Linked DNA regions of Homo sapiens. The protein of the gene in region 1 purifies or fractionates together with the protein of each later gene. This does not show direct contact. Each region holds a gene or a part of one and is shown in the gene's direction. Other genes may lie near its edges.

Region 1 (5,406 bases):
AACCAGGAACGCACCCTCTCTGTGGAGCTCTGACTGGTGTAGCTGGAAACAAACAGCAACTTGCAAACGGACGAAGAGCCTGCCGTGTGTTAATCATTTGCCTTACAAGATGTACCAGACGGTTTCCAGTACTAACAAAGGGAATAAAAATACCTCACGCCACAATCCAGCATATTGATGTTTTAAGGCAAAACAACCAACTTTGTCTGTAGTCTTCATTTTCTGTGTGGGGGGGGAGGGGGGAAGGGGACACTCCAGCAAGGGTTTCTAAAGCCCCAGTGTTCAGAGTGACACAGGGAGGGCCTGCCCCCCACTGTTCCCTATGCTCCCCCCACCTCCAGGCAGGGGCAGAGCAAACAAACAGCTCCGGGCCACACAGCAGCATCAGGCTCCCTCCAGAAGTCACCACTCACTCATTCCTGGAGACTTGGGGACAAGGCAGTCTCCTCAGCTATTTATTTCTGAATGATTGATTGATTCCAAACTACTTGCTGGACACTGGTGGTTCTGACCTGTGACCAGCACCTCTGCTTCCTGTGTGCCCTCAAGAAAATACTAGTGTGGGTAACAGTCCATCTGAGTGGAGTTTGAGACACACTACACATGAGACACACAATGATGCAGATACTCGTTTTCTTGAGCTTTATTGGCCCCTGCATGATACAGTCCCTGTGCTTAAGAACATGCCCTATTAGGTCACTCTGCCTTTGCTGACACATTTTATAGCAGAAATACACAAGCTGTTTTTAAAGGAGGGAAATATAAAAAATGTTTATAAACTGACAGTGTTTTGCCAGAGGAAAGGTACAAAATGCTACATACAGAACCAAACCAGCCACTTCACAAGAGCAATGCAGGGATAAAACTATTGGATAAGGAAGGCAGATGCACTTCCAAGAAAATCAGAACCCAGCAAGAAGTGGCCAGTGCACCCCAAACCACACTGGTGTCCACCTCATTGGCAGCAGCCAGCCAGGACACAGCTCAAAAACGCAGGAGCTACCAGCCACCCAGTCCACGGCCCTCGTCTCCCAGAGGCTGAGTACCTCCCCAGGCTGCAGGCTCTGGGCAGCTGAGCCAGGAGCAGCTCAGGGCTGGCACTGAGAGGCTACTGGTGACAGTAAACCCGTCTCAAAGGCTGGGCCTGGCTACAGACCAGCAGCAGTTGACGCTGAGGCAGGTTCCAGTGGTAGCCCTGGTGCCTGGGCTCTCTCTTAATGCAGGCCTGGAAGTGGCGACACAAAAGCCAGCTTCCTTGGCTAAGATGCCCTTAAAAACATTGGGGCTGATTTTGTGCGTCTACAGAAAGTAACAGCCCAGGAGAGAATGTACACAGAGGCGAGCTTTCTAACTCCATCAAACCCCACCTCCCCCGACAGGAAATGCTGCCAGTCAACTCTAAAAGAACCACTTGTTGCTCTACGGGGGAAGGGGCTGAGTATGATTTGTCTGGCGACTGCAGAGACTCCCCGTTCATACCAGTATTCATTAGAACCCAGTCCCTCGAGCGGCTCACCCACTGTTACTAGCATGAGACTGGCTTCAGTGCTAAAAACTGTGATGTCATTGTCCATTTGTAAATCTGAAGAACTCTGTAAATCAGAAAAGCTGCTGTCCGCCCTGGCTCACTTAAAAATCAGGTAACGGCACACCCTGGGGAACACAGACTCAATCTGTGTGATTCGCAAGGACAAAACTCATCTTTGACTTATGCCGCCGGCCTCACGTAAGGAAACAGTTCCCCACACAGAATACTCCCTGGAAACACAAAATGAAATCTTCTCCAATTTTATTATTCAACATAACATTCTTGTATGGAGTAATGAGTACAATAAGAATTAGCAACTCAGTTCTATTTCCCCAACCAAAATATATCCCTTATACAAATTAAGAGTTCAACCCAAATCCACTTCTAATAAAATACCTCAATTTTAGAGCTTAAAAACCAGACTGCACTAGCAAACCGACACAATAACCCACTCAAGCATCTGTAGCTCAGGGCTCTGTCCCCTCCCTATAGCTTAGAGGCCACTAGACCAGCAGATAGCTGAGCTACATCCCCAAGCTCACCCACTAACTTCCTTGCTTCCAAAAATCCTGTCTTAACTCCACAAGAACTGGCACACCCACGGGAGATGTCAATCATCAGCTTCAACAAACATAAAAGAATGCTTCATGTACCAGTCAACAGCTGCTGCACGAACCCTCCCACTCCAGAAACCCAGAGATTTTCCCCCTCGCCAAGCAAGGTCCCACAGCAAACCAAGAAAAACAGACACACTGGCTGCCTGCCTAGCAAGCATAGGCCCCTTCCAGAGAAGCAAAATAACTCTTAAGGTCCCCGGCAACCGCTACAGCAATCGCACAGATCAGCAACCTCCAACTGCATCATCTCGGTGAGCAAGTGCGCAAGCAGTCCAGGGCGCTGACCTGGGCACTCGGCAGCTCCAGGCCTGGGGACTTCTCCCTGGAGTCTTCCAAAGTGTCTCATCACACACACACAGCCACGAGTACACACGCACGGCCACACATACACAGCAGGTGCCCTGTCCTCTGAAGAGTCACATTTCAAGGAGTATGCAAAATAAGCGTGTTATAAAATTTATTTGTGTAAGCATTCAGACATTTTTAGGTGGGAAAGATGATATGCAGAATCCACTACAAGGTGCAACAGAAAATCGTATTGGAAAGGACGGTACATCTGGCGCAGACCAGCAGTGGCACGATTCCAAACAAATGTCAGACGAGAGCGCTTCATGGGGAGAAACTGAAAATTATAATTTAAAGCTTCATGAGGCAAGATATGTTCCAATTTAAAACACTAAGAAATAGTACCATCGATGAAAAAGGAAATCAACCTCTAGGTGTACCAAAAGGGGCGTAGGGCAAACGGGGAAAATTTGCATTTGTTGAGGTACAAATAGGAGTGTTCTGTAAGAGAGGGGCATTAATTATTAATGACAAACCCTGCAAATACAAAATAAAACCCAAATCACTGGTCACAGAATTCAAAATGTACATGTAATAAAGGCAAGGCAATAGACTCAAGTTATGGCCTGTCGAATATTTACTCCACTGACGTTATCTACAGAAGCACTTGGCCAGTTTGTACACAGTGATTCCTTATGCACGCCGAAAGGGTTTCCGTAAAAATGACATTATATACAAATCTGTACACCCATCCACCAGAGCGATTCTCCAGCTCCCAGAGGGAGTTATCAACTTAAAGCAGGATACCTGAGGTTTCATGTCTTTAGTTGCCTTATCATAATCCCAAATATACATTTCAGGGTTTGTTTTTGTTTTTAAAGACACTTTCCTGGAATATGTGCACTATGGTTAAAATTAAAAACAAAAGTAATAAAATAAAATAAAATGATCGCTGGAAGGAGCTGACCCTCCCCACCCATCTGAGAGACTTCATCTGGCTGCAGCACAGTGAAGACTGTGTGTGTCCCTGGACGGGCGCCTGGCGCTGGGGTGGCTCCCAGTGGCGCACCTCTTCGGTGGAGTCAGCGAAGGCTCTCGTTGACTTTTAAAAAAGGAGGAGGATGAAGAAGGAAAAAAGGAAAAACAAAACCCCAAATGCCAAAGGAATTTCAGTGGGATGAAGTTCCTCCACCACTTAGAGAGTATCTAGGGAAAAAGAGAGAGAGAGAAGTCAACACATGTCATTTCTCATCCCTGTGCAAAAATTCATATAGTAACCAAAATCTTAGTTTTCATAAGAAATTCCAAGTCATACAAAAATAAGTGGAGCAAATATCAATGTGTAAGTCTAATTTTAAAAGAATGCATATAAAGACTGAGAAGATCATGATTCTTACACAAAAACTCCAGAGCATGTCACCAAAAACCAAGAATGGGTTCAGCCTCCCTGGAGAGATGTGAATAAAACGGGAAATCATATCCCTTTTACTTACGATCAATTGTCAAAAAGTGAACATTGATCCATACATGATGACACAGTAAGATTCCAGGGATGCATATGCATTCCCGATGTGAGGGCAGGAAACCCATTTTGGCCATAAAAATAGTGATGCAGTCCAAGAATCTATTTCCTAGAACTGCTTCCGAAATATGGTCCAAAGCAGGAACAACGTGTCTGCACAAAGATGTCTCTCGGGATTTTCGTAATTACACTAATTTGGAAACAACTCTGATGCCCAACAGTACAGAATCAGTTAAGTAAATTATACAAACTGAAATAACAGACTAAAAATGGTAATTATCTGTATTTACATATATATATTAAAGCAATATTAAAAATATGTACAAGTTTAAAAGTACATACAAAATTACAGATTGGGCATCCCTTATCTGAAATGCTTCTGGCTTTGGATCTGGGAATATCCGCATTATACTTACCAGTGTGCAGCCCCAAATCCGAAATCTGACATGCCCCAGAGAGCAGTTCCTTTGAGCCCCATGCTGGCGCTCAAAAGTTTCAGATTGGGGATTTGGGATATTCAGCCTGTATATGTGCACTATATAAGTATATTTACATGAACAACTTCTGTATCCTAAATTAAGTACTATAGAAATTCTAAAAAATCTTCTTTGCACTATAAGGTAGATAAGAGAATTCAGTAAGTTTATGACCTGGTATGACAACAGAAGGCAATGCACCCAAAGATGCTGATGAGATTTGGGCTACAGTGGTGGGATCATGGGTAATTTCTGTGTCTTCCAAAAATTCTACAAGATTGTCTTCAGAAGACAACAAAGGGTGAGAACGGGGTCCCCTCATGACCACAATTCCCTCAACCATTTTACAACAGACTCCAAATCACAGGTCCAGGAGAGATGGCTGAGGATGTCTTTGACCAGGCTTATCTCAAACGTTCCAATCTAGAGCTCCTCTTTTCAGGCATTTGAAATACTTGGCATCTCTCCCAGAGAACAAATGGTTACATAAGGTCCTCCCAAAAGCACACATTAGCCACGGAGCCTAAGACTCAACTATCAAGAAATACAAATGACTAAATCACGGGATGAGTTGATGTCACACAAAAGAATCCAAACATTAATTCCAGCTGAGACAGAAAGGCTCTGAAAATGCTTCAGAGGAGAGGCGGCTCTCATTTTTCCTACAGCCATCCACTGAAACAACATGTTTGGAGCAAAACTGGCAGGAAGTCTAAGCCATGGCCACCGTGGTTTTGGCAGCCATCGGGGTGAACGCTCAGTGGGAGCTTCAGGAGCAGGGAAGGAAGAAGTGGGTACCACAGCCAAGCCTGCAGAGAGATGATAAGCACCTCAAGAGGCAGCTCATCTGAGGACAGAGGAGGAAAGAGGGCACTCCTCATCACAGACAAAGGAAAGAGAGCACCAACTTGGCTTCCCCCATGCATCACTGCAAAGTAAAGTTTTAAACACAACACAGACATCAGGTAGCTACAGACC
Region 2 (3,776 bases), on another chromosome or scaffold:
CTTTTTCCAAAATGCTTGGGACCAGAAGTGTTTCAGACTTTAGATTTTTTCAGATTTTGGAATATTTGCATATTAATATATAATGAGATATCTTGGGGAGGGGACCCAAGTCTAAACAGGAGATTCATTTATGTTTCATATACACTTTATACACATAGCCTAAAGGTAATTTTACACAATACTTTCAGTAATTGTGTGCATGAAAATTTTGACCGTGCTCCATCACATGAGATCAAGTGTAAATTTTCCATTTGTGTGTCATATCAGTGTTCAAAAAGTTTTGGATTTTCAAGCATTTCAGATTTTAGATTTTCAGATTAGTAATGCTAAACCTGTATTTAAATAATATTAAAAATACTCGAGTCTGAATTTAGAGAGTTTTCATGTAAGTATGTACATTTATAAGGAAGATTTTGCCATGCTTGAGCAACACCTCATCTGATTTGAAGTTGGTAGCCAATATGTTTAGGTAACTCAAAGTTTGAAACAGTAATTTTTAAAATTAAAATAATTATAGGTATGCATTTAAATTAAATTTTTTGTGCCTTACCCAACACAGGGGACTCAATAGCATTTCATACTAGGAACATTCAAAGGAATAAAGTTAGCTGGAGAAGGGGGTCATGTTCTTTAGAAAGGACTTCATATGTCAGTGTCTACAGAAACAGTGAAAAAAGGAAAAAGAAGTAAAGAAAAATAGAAAAAATAAAAGTTTTCATATGGAAGAGGGCTTACATTTGTTTTTAATGACTCTTAGAGATACAACAAGGTAGCGACAATAGTAAGACAGAGACAGACTTTGGTTTACTGAGAACTTTTTTTTTTTTTTTTTTAAAGTCTCACTCTGTTGCCCAGGCTGGAGTGCAGTGGAGCGATCTTGGCTCACTGCAACCTCCGCCTCCCAGGCTCAAGTTATTCTTCCCGAGTAGCCAGGATTACAGGCATGCACCACTACCGCCTGGCTAATTTTTGTATATTTAGTAGAGACAAGGTTTTGCCATGTTGGCCAGGCTGGTCTCGAACTCCTAACCTCAGGTGATCCACCCGCCTCGGCCTCCCGAAGTGCTGGGATTACAGTTGTGAGCCACCATGTCCAGCCCTCCCAAGGGGAACTTTGTGAGAGAGCCATCATAAGATGCAATGAGCTACTTCAGTAGGTAGAAAACATTCCATCCATCGGCCACTTAGTGAAGATAGGCAAAAAAAATATACTCCTTGAATAGGTAGTTAAATTCCATGGCCTTTGGAACCTCCTTTCAGCCCAAGTTACTGTGATTCTGTGAATACATGCAGCTGTTCTCTAAACTGCTCACAGCTTTTCCTTCATATTATGATAAAAGAGTTTTCACACAAGAGGATGAATGGAAAGTGAAAGAAAAAAACTTGGTTGTGAGATGAGTAAAAGACAAAAAGTAGCTGGTAAGCTCTTCTCTTCTTTACAATTATTTCCATTATTATAATTTATCTGGATTTTCTAGTTCTGGCTTTAAGAGCAACATCAGAATAGCAGTTAATCTCTTTCCTACACAATTGATTTTAGAAATGCTGTTGGCTTAAGATAATTAAGTTTTCTTTTGAACCAGCAACATGGCTGAATTAGCTACAGCTTTATGGCTGTTGCTGCTTAAAGATTTAATAACTAACAATAAATACAACCCGTTTTGACTTTCTTATTTTGCCAGTATCTATTAGAATGAATTTGCCCAGAAGGAAATGATAGGCATAAATTCAGTGGAAGTTGATTTATGGGATTCTTTCTGTGGTTCCGTGACTTAGAATCCAAACAGGGTTGCATTCTGGATTCACACAGAAGCCTTTGATCTTTAGTGCTGATTACTTTGATGCCAGGATAAGTAGCCACATACAACTGTCCAAACAAGTATACTTGAAGAATTCTATATTACCGTTGTTTCTTGGTGCTTTCTAAACAAGTACCATCAGTGAAGAAGATTTTGAATACAGATGAGCCGTGAAATTTTGCGGAGCTGCTAGAAAAGAATTTTTATTGAATTGAAATTCATTTTCCCTCACCAACATGGAATTCATACTTGAAATTGATGTTATCACCGTTATTTAATCAAATAGAGAGCCTCTTTTTAATCCATTGCTTGATTTTTTTTATAGGCTAGCTTCTGAGCATTTAATACCCAAATATATGCTTCCTTTGGCTTTTTTTTTTTTTTCTTCGAGTCAGGGTCTTGCTTTGTTGTCCAGGCTGGAGTGCAGTGGTATGATCATGGCTCACTGCAGCCTTGGCCTCCTGCGTTCAAGTGACCCTCCCACCTCAGCCTCCTGAATAGCTGGGACTACAGGCGCATGGCACCATGCCCAGCTAATTTTTGCATTTTTTTTGTAGAGATGGGATTTCACTGTGTTGTCCAGGTTGGTCTTGAACTCCTGGGCTCAGGCAATCCATTCACCTTGGCCTCCCAAAGTGTTGGATTATAGGCATGAGCCACTGTGCCCTGCCTTCCCTTGGCTTTTTAACCTTCCCCTAGAGGTTACCTCTAAGTAGCACTGAGGGGAAAGTAGCTGCTAATTTTATGTAGCTTGTAGTACTGAAATCCCTCTGGAGAAGTGATCACCTAGACTCCAGTAGAAGGATATTACTGTTGTATACTATTCAAAACAGTTTAACTATAGAAGTGTCAAAGTAGATTTCAGTAAGCATAGACATCGCAAAGCCTAAGCTTCAGGCATAAAGGCTTAATACTGCCTCAAAGAATAATTATTTCAGTGCTGGGAAGGTGATAAGAGACACATATTCACTGGACCATTCATTTATCCTTCAGCAGTTTAAAGAAGCAAGGAGGCTGGGAGCACTTTGGGAGGCAAAGGCAGGCGGATTGCCCGAGCTCAGGAGTTCGATACCACCCTGGGCAACATGATGAAACCCCGTCTCTACTAAAAATACAAAAAATTAGCCAGGCATGGTGGTGGGTGCCTGTAGTCCCAGCTACTCGGGAGACTGAGGCACAAGAATCGCTTGAACCCGGGAGTCGGAGGTTGCAGTGAGCCAAGATCGCACCACTGCACTCCAGTCTGGGCGACAGAGTGAGACTCTGTCTCAAAAAAAAAATAATAATAATAATTAAAAAATAAGCAAGGAGAGTTGTAGAGATTTGGTGTCCTATTTTAGTATTACGTATTGTTAGCATTGGAATGAATTTTTAACCTTTGGAGCCAGACAGACATGGATTTGAATTCCAGGGCCATTACTTAGTACCTGTGTAATAGCCTCGACTATTTAACCTCTGAGGTTCAGTTTTTTCCTAAGGATTTTTGGATGGATCAGGGAGAATTTGTGTAAAGTGTCTGGCAAATAGTGGGCTCTCCATAAGCATCTATAAATAATGTTGATATTAACAATAATAAAATGAGGAAAGATTTTTTTCTTAGAATTTTAAATTCATGGTTTCCCAATTTCTATTAATATATACAGCTTATATTTAATTTGGCAGAGTTTGTACAAGTAAAGTCAGATCTATACTCTTTAGGATGTGTATCCTACTCACAATTTGACATAATTGATGATAACACAACTTCCTTAATTTTAACTTTTTAGTGATTTTTTAATAATTGAAACCTTCCGTAAATGATTAGGTTGAGAAATAATGAGTCAGTTTGCAAAGTGACTTGCACAAAAGATGAGCACAAATACTGGGGAAGAGAAAAAAAACAGTTGCTTTAGAAAAGTTAGAGATCTGAAATCAAATTTCAGAGATTCATGGGTGATTTTGATATTGAATTACTAATGGTTGCTTTTTTACATTTTA
Region 3 (3,776 bases), on another chromosome or scaffold:
AAGGTGGACAGAGAGGTGGGCAGAGTGAATTTATCCTATTTTGTGGATGATGAAACAGGCACAGAGAGCATAAGTGATTTGTCCAAGTTTGTGTTGCCAATAAATAGTAGAGCTGCAAGGAGAACCTAGTTTCCTGAGGCCTAGTTTAATCTTTTCCACTAAACCATGTTGTAGAAAATACACCATAACTAAAACCATGTTTGTTATAGTGCCATACTTTTCTGTGTGTGTGTGTGTTTTGTTTTTTTGTTTGTTTGTTTTTTGAGACAGAGTTTTGCTCATTGCCCAGGTTGGAGTGCAGTGGTGTGATCTTGGCTCACCTCTGCCTCCTGGGTTCAAGCGATTCTCCTGCCTCAGCCTCCCAAGTAGCTGGGATACAGGTATGCGCCACCACGCCCGGCTAATTTTGTATTTTTAGTAGAGATGGGGTTTCTCCGTGTTGGTCAGGCTGGTCTTGAACTCGTGACCTCAGGTGATCTGCCCGCCTCAACCTCCCAAAGTGCTGGGATTACAGGTGTGAACCACCGTGTCCAGCCTTCTGTGTTTTTCAGTTGCAGATGCACACACTCCCCCCATGATAAATCTCTCTACCAAATTGAAGGACTTGTGTATTTTCTGTACTACATTTTATAGTGCTTAGGAGTGTCCTTGATACACACTTTTCATTTTAGAGGAAAAAGTGAGGGACCTGACGTTTATCTGTGATGACTATGACTATCGTTATGCTAGATACATTATGTCATTTAATCCTCATAACAGCTCTGAGTGACACCACTGTCCCACCCTCTTATTCCTCTTGAGGAATCTGAGCTTCAGACATCTTTTTTTTTTTTTCTTGAGACAGAGTCTTGCTCTGTCTCCCAGGCTGGAGTGCAATGGCACAATCACGGCTCACTGCAACCTCCACCTCCCAGGTTCAAGCGATTCTCCTGCTTCAGGCTCCAGAGTAGCTGGGATTACAGGTGCCTGCCACCACGCCCAGCTAATTTTTTTTTTTTTTAAGTAGAGATGGGGTTTTGCCATGTTGGCCAGGCTGGTCTCGAACTCCTGACCTCAGGTGATCCTCCCGCCTTGGCCTCCCAAAGTGCTGGGATTACAGGTGTGAGCCACCAGGCCTGGCCTGAGCTTCAGACATTAAGTGACTTCCCTATGTTCATGCAGTAAGTGACAGAATCAGGATTCAAACCCAGGTTCGTCTGACTCTACTAACTATTCCAAACAGTGAACCTCAAGTTGAGTTTAAAGACCACAGATAGAAGAGTCAGGTGAACCTGGAGGTATTAACTACTAACTCTCCCAAACAGTAAGCCTCAAGTAGAGTTTAAAGACCACAGATAGAAGTCAATACCTTGTTTGATATGTTATTGATACATTTCACTGTTAGCTCCTAAGAATACAATAATAAGATACAGTAACTTAAAACATTAAATTACCAAGGTTATGAGACAGGATATAGGAGGGAAAATAGAATTTTTTCTTCAGTAACAAGTTCCTTCCAAATAGTGGTGAGAAACTATTTTAATCCCTTTTATTGCTCATAGTCTGTAACTAATAAATGTTGTACTTAGTTTGGGACTTCTACATCAAGACAGTAAATAAGGTGTAATCATCATAGGGCCTCTACTTCTATTATAAACTGAAAAACTATTGAAGTTGGATCCAGGATCAGTGTTCAGACTTTGATGTTACCACCAAATGAACACAAGATACTAGAGGAGAGAGACCCTAGGATCAGGTCAAGCCCTGATCCCTCCATTGGCCAAGGACTTCAAGGCCATATCAATCTATAGGGATTAAAAGATGGTGCCATTGGCTCCTTAAAAAGCTTTGTAATTTCACCAGGCAATGACTGTCTCCAATGACTGCAAATTAGAGTTTTATTGGAATCTTTGCACAAGAGAATGGGCTATACCTTTTCTCACTCAGGCAAGACCTTTGATAGGTCATTTGCCCTTCTCAGGAAGCCAACTCATTCCTTTGGTACTTAAAAGGCAGGGCCAGTGAGCTAACAGTTACTGAATTAACTGCAGGTCAGGACAGTAGGCTCACCTGACTGGAGAAAGCAGGGCAAGGTCAGGGAGCCACGTGATCCTGACACTGCTGACAACATGGTTGCAATTTTCAGGAAGTTGTCTCTTTACACCGTTTTCCTCAAATTTTTTCCAAGATGAATGGGTTTTTTTTTTAAGAGACTAACCTTCACCTTGCAAGAGAATTATCTTCTGTGCAATTTCTTGGAAGCCAGCATGATTCTTTTCATTGTTCTTTAATGATCATTTGGATATTTTTACATCCACAGCAACTTTTACCACACTTGCTAAACCTGTTGTCGGTGTTTAATTTCTTCTTTATCTTGATGAACCAAACCAAGACTAGAGAACTATCAGTAGTAGAGATTACCTGTCATAAAACATGGAGAAAACCATGTACAGGAGAAATGTGATTAAGGAGCATAAGCCCTCTTTTTTTTGTTTTTGAGGCAGAGTCTTGCTCTGTTGCCCAGGCTGGAGTGCAGTGTAGCGATCTCTGCTCACTGCAAGCTCCGCCTCCTGGGTTCACGCCATTCTCCTGCCTCAGTCTCCCGTGTAGCTGGGACTACAAGCGCCCGCCACCACGCCCGGCTAATTTTTTCTGTTTTTTAGTAGAGACGGGGTTTTACAGTGTTAGCCAGGATGGTCTCAATCTCCTGACGTCGTGATCCACCCACCTCAGCCTCCCAAAGTGCTGGGATTACAGGCGTGAGCCACCGCGCCCGGCCTGCATAAGCCCTCTTTTCTGGTTCTGCTTAAGTTATTCATGCACTGAACATAAATAGGAAATGTTTGCTGGCCAATAATAGCGATAGGGTGATAGAACAGGCATGTTGACTGTGGGCAAGTCACAATCATAAAAGGAGAAAGTCACGCTTTTAGCTGACATGTTTAGCAGATGATAGAATATGTAAAAGAGGCCAGGCGCAGTGGTTCATGCCTATAATCCCAGCAGTTTGGGAGGCTGGGGCGGGCAGAACACATGAGGTCAGGAGTTCAAGACCAGCCTGGCCAAAGTGGCGAAACCCCGTCTCTACTAAATAACAAAAATTAGCCTGGCGTGATGGCGTGTGCCTGTAATCCCAGCTACTCGGGAGGCTGAGGCAGGAGAATCACTCGAACCCAGGAGGTAGAGGTTGCAGTGAGCCAAGATCATGCCACTGCACTCCAGCCTGGGCGAGAGAGTGAGACTGTGTCAAAAACAAAAAGATGATGTAAGAGACTCACTTCATGAAGCACATGCGCATCAATCACCTGGCCAGGGTACTCAGCAGACCAAAAAACAAGTAGACGCCCTGATTTTCAGGGGTCCCTTGGCCTTTTGAAAAACATTTTTTCAACCTGTAATTGATTTGACTTTCAACACTTAGCTGCAGTCCAATGCAGAAATCTTTAATGCACCTGTTTAGAATATGCTCTTCCTGAGGCTTAGCCGTGGATCCTTCGGCACTGGATGTTAGGGAAGGGGGTACGTTTCGGTAAACAATGACAGTGACTTCTGTTTGGAACCATAGTTTCTTTGTTGGAACGAAGCTCAACTCATATAAGGAGTTTGGAACCCCCTGCCGGACTTACAACCTCCAACTTCTCTCTAATGAGGCTCTTGGGAGCTGTACAAAAAGGTGAGGCTGGAGTTTGACTGTTGTCTTCTGTTGCAGGTTCTGGGCATTTGGAAAAGTTTCTCTTCGGGCTGTTAAGCAAGGCTAAAGAGGAGAGGAAAAAAATGTTAAAATGTGTGTTGTCTTC
Region 4 (3,776 bases), on another chromosome or scaffold:
GTGAGCCAAGATCGCACCACTGCACTCCAGCCTGAGCAACAGAGCAAGACTCTGTCTCAATCAATCAATCAATATCATGAGGAAAAAGTCTTCTTTAAAATTTGAAAATTAATTTTTATTTCAGTAGCTTTTGAGGTACCAGTATTTTTTTGTTATAGGGATGAATTATGTAGTGGTGAATTCTGAGATCTTAGTAAACCAGTTATTCCAGTAGTGTACATTGTAAGTAATGTATAGTGTTTTATAGTGTACATTGTAACTAATGTATAGTGTTTTATAGTGTACATTGTAACTAATGTATAGTGTTTTATAGTGTACATTGTAACTAATGTATAGTGTTTTATAGTGTACATTGTAACTAATGTATAGTGTTTTATAGTGTACGTTGTAACTAATGTATAGTGTTTTATAGTGTACATTGTAACTAATGTATAGTGTTTTATCCCTAGCACCACTGCCATCCTCCCGCCTTGAGTCTCTAAAGTTCCATTATATCACTCTGTATGCCTGTGCATTCCCATCATTTAGCTCCCACTTACGAGTGAGAACATAGTTTGTGGTTTTCCACTCCTGTGTTACTTAGAATAATGGCCTTCATCTCCATCCAAGTTGCTGCAAAAGACATTCATTCTTTCCTTTTACTGGCTGAGTAGTATTCCATAGTTTATAGATACATTTTCTTTATCTGCTCATTAGTCAATGGCCACTTAGGCTGGTTCCACATCTTTGCAATTGTGAATTGTGCTGCTATAAACATACGTGTGCAAGTATCTTTTTCATATAATGACTTATTTTCCTTTAGGTAGATGCCCAGACTGCTGGATTGAATGCAGATCTACTTCGAAAAAGTCTCAAGTGCCTAACTATCCCCTGTTCCCTGTGTTCTGATTTCTTTTTTTTTTTTTTTTTTTTTTTTGAGATGGAGTCTTGCTCTGTTGGCCAAGCTGGAGTGCAGTGGTGCAATCTCGGCTCACTGTAACCTCCACCTCCCGGGTTCAAGTCATTCTTCTGCCTCAGCCTCCTGAGTAGCTGGGACTACAGGCATGTGCCACCACCACACCCGGCTAATTTTTGTATTTTTAGTAGAGATGGGGTTTTGCCTTTTTGGCCAGGCTTATCTTGAACTCGTAACCTCAGATGATCCACCTGCCTTGGCCTCCCAAAGTTCTGGGATTATAGACATGAGCCACTGCGCCCAGCCTGTGTTCTGATTTCTTTACCTGTTATATAAGCTTACCATTCCTTCCAGTAGCCTTATAACATAGAGGGACAGGGGCTTATTTCCAGGTAGAGTAGGGAATTTGGGGTCCACGGAGTTCAGGTTCTTGCCAGAAGTGACGTTGCTGCTTAGTGTTGAAACTGAGCCCACCAGGACCAGGTGCAGGTCATTTCCTATTACCTGTCCCTGCCCTCCTGCCCCGCCCAAAAGAAACTTTATGATGGTGAGAAAGTGATACATATTCAGTGGGAACTGTGCTCCCATACCCCTACAACCATTCTGTTTTTCACTGTCAAAACAGTACTCAATAAATTACATGAGATTCGGCTGGGCGTGGTGGCTCACGCCTGTAATCCCAGCACTTTGGGAGGCTGAGGCGGGAAGATCACTTTAGGTCAGGAGATCGAGACCATCCTGGCTAATACGGTGAAACCCCATCTCTACTAAAAATACAAAAAAAAAAAAAAATTATCTGGTGCATAGTGACGCACGCCTGTAATCCTAGCTACTCGGGAGGCTGAGGCGGGAGAATTCTTGAACCTGGGAGATGGAACTTGCAGTGAGCTGAGATCACAGCACTGCACTCCAGCCTGGTCAACACAGTGAGACTCTGTCTCAAAAAAAAAAAAATTACATGGGATTCAACATTTTCTTATATAATAATGAAAATAGGCTTTGTGCTAGATGATTTTGCCCAGCCGTAGGCTAATAGAAGTGTTCTGAGCACATTTAAGGTAGGCTAGGCTAAGTGATGATGTTCAGTAGATTAGGTGCATTAAATGCTTTTTCTTTTCTTTTTTTTTTTTTGAGATGGAGTCTCGCTCTGTCACCCAGGCTGGAGTGCAGTGGCTCGATCTGGGCTTACTGATCACCTCCCGGGTTCACGCCATTCTGCCTCAGCCTCCCGAGTAGCTGGGACTACAGGCACCCGCCACCACGCCCGGCTAATTTTTTGTATTTTTAGTAGAGATGGGGTTTCACCGTATTAGCCAGGATGGTCTCGATCTCCTGACCTCATGATCGGCCTGCCTCAGAATCCCAAAGTGCTGAGATTACAGGTGTGAGCCACCACGCCCGGCCAAATGCTTTTTCAACTTACGATATTTTCTTTTTTTTTTTTTTTTTGAGACAGAGTCTTGCCCTGTTGGCCAGGCTGGTCTCGGCTCCCTGCAACCTCCGTCTCCTGGGCTCAAGCAATTCTCCTGCCTCAGCCTCTCAAGTTGCTGGGATTACAGGCATGTGCCACCATGCCCAGCTAATTTTTGTATTTTTAAGTAGAGACGGGGTTTCAACATGTTGGCCAAGCTGGTCTCGATCTCCTGACCTCTGGCAGTCCTCCCACCTCAGCCTCCCAAAGTGCTGGGATTACAGGCGCAAGCCACTGTGCCCGGTCAACTTATGATATTTTCAACTTACAGTGGGTTTGTCAGGACATAGTCCCATCCTAAATTGAGGAACATCTGTATACTAGACAGGGACTTCTCTGAGGTCAGGGACCCTGTTTTCATTCTGTATCCCCAGTTCCTGACAAAATCCTAGCATGTATAACATCGCCTACAACAAGTTTGTTCCAGGAAAGAGTGTTTCATAATAATGACACTTGCTACTAGGCTTTTTAGTGGCTGGCAGAGTGCTCTCACACCACTGTTAGTTAATACTCGTATTCACCCAGTCAAATGGATGTTCTCCCCATCCTAGAGGTGTGCACCCAACAATTAGAGCAATCACAAGAGCACACACTTCCTAATGAGAAAGTTCCAGAAGGATTATCCTGAATACCTTGAAAGGCTCAGATTGCAAACTTGGCTGGCAGGCATTTCCTTCACCTGCTGGGCTGTTGACCACTGAATCTCCTGATTTTAGGCTCCAAGATTATGGCCCATGCCCCCCAGGCCGCACCTCGTTCCTTACCAGGTTCTTCCTACCCCCTCCCCCAGGAGATTGCTGCGATGATTGACACTGAGTTTGCCAAGCAGACCTCCCTGGACGCAGTGGCCCAGGCCGTCGTGGACCGGGTGAAGCGCATCCACAGCGACACCTTCGCCAGTGGTGGGGAGCGTGCCAGGTTCTGCCCCCGGCACGAGGACATGACCCTGCTAGTGAGGAACTTTGGCTACCCGCTGGGCGAAATGAGCCAGCCCACACCGAGCCCAGCCCCAGGTACGTGTGCTGTGCAGACAGGCAGTGCCTGGGGATGCCATCTGGGGGCCAGAGGTGGGTGCAGAGCCCCCGAGGCTGCTTGAAACGGAGATGGAGTCAGGAGGCCTGGCTCTGAGTGGCTCTAATTCAGGTTCTCTGATTTTTAGCCTCTCTGAGCTGAGTGTTGATTTTTGCTCTTTTGTCTGTAAAATGAGGTTAATACCACCTGCCCCGGCAACCTCCCAGAACCTGAGTGCCCCAGCAAGCAATTCACAGAGCCCTGAAGCCACATAATAGAGATGATGGCCACCACTGATTGAGTGCCTCCCTTGTGCCAGGCACACAGCCTGCCTTATTCCCTTCAGTCCTCATGGGCAACCCTAAAGACAGGTGGTACCCCTGTTTTCCAGAGAGGGAA

The links.
Region 2: the proteins of FARP1 (region 1) and MRPS35 purify together in Homo sapiens (affinity purification with mass spectrometry; one large-scale study listed by BioGRID and IntAct). This does not show direct contact.
Region 3: the proteins of FARP1 (region 1) and MTNAP1 purify together in Homo sapiens (affinity purification with mass spectrometry; one large-scale study listed by BioGRID and IntAct). This does not show direct contact.
Region 4: the proteins of FARP1 (region 1) and TAB1 purify together in Homo sapiens (affinity purification with mass spectrometry, with the first as the bait; one large-scale study listed by BioGRID). This does not show direct contact.

What each region holds. Positions count from the first base shown.
Region 1 is NC_000013.11:98,449,574-98,454,979, forward strand, and holds part of FARP1 (FERM, ARHGEF and pleckstrin domain-containing protein 1), read left to right. Parts: 3' UTR 1-3,599; coding exon of another isoform or gene 3,600-3,636; 3' UTR 3,637-5,406. Other genes in the region: STK24 (serine/threonine-protein kinase 24 isoform a precursor), read right to left, coding at 3,600-3,636. UniProt on the Homo sapiens protein: Functions as a guanine nucleotide exchange factor for RAC1. May play a role in semaphorin signaling.
Region 2 is NC_000012.12:27,738,099-27,741,874, forward strand, and holds part of MRPS35 (small ribosomal subunit protein mS35 isoform 1 precursor), read left to right. Parts: intron 1-3,776.
Region 3 is NC_000017.11:73,238,700-73,242,475, forward strand, and holds part of MTNAP1 (mitochondrial nucleoid-associated protein 1), read left to right. Parts: intron 1-3,401; exon of another isoform or gene 3,402-3,544; coding exon 3,545-3,652; exon of another isoform or gene 3,653-3,723; coding exon of another isoform or gene 3,724-3,733; intron 3,734-3,776. Other genes in the region: CPSF4L (putative cleavage and polyadenylation specificity factor subunit 4-like protein), read right to left, coding at 3,724-3,733. UniProt on the Homo sapiens protein: Critical regulator of mitochondrial DNA (mtDNA) abundance. Binds dsDNA throughout the mitochondrial genome without sequence specificity and controls mtDNA copy number by promoting its replication.
Region 4 is NC_000022.11:39,423,547-39,427,322, forward strand, and holds part of TAB1 (TGF-beta-activated kinase 1 and MAP3K7-binding protein 1), read left to right. Parts: intron 1-3,156; coding exon 3,157-3,379; intron 3,380-3,776. UniProt on the Homo sapiens protein: Key adapter protein that plays an essential role in JNK and NF-kappa-B activation and proinflammatory cytokines production in response to stimulation with TLRs and cytokines.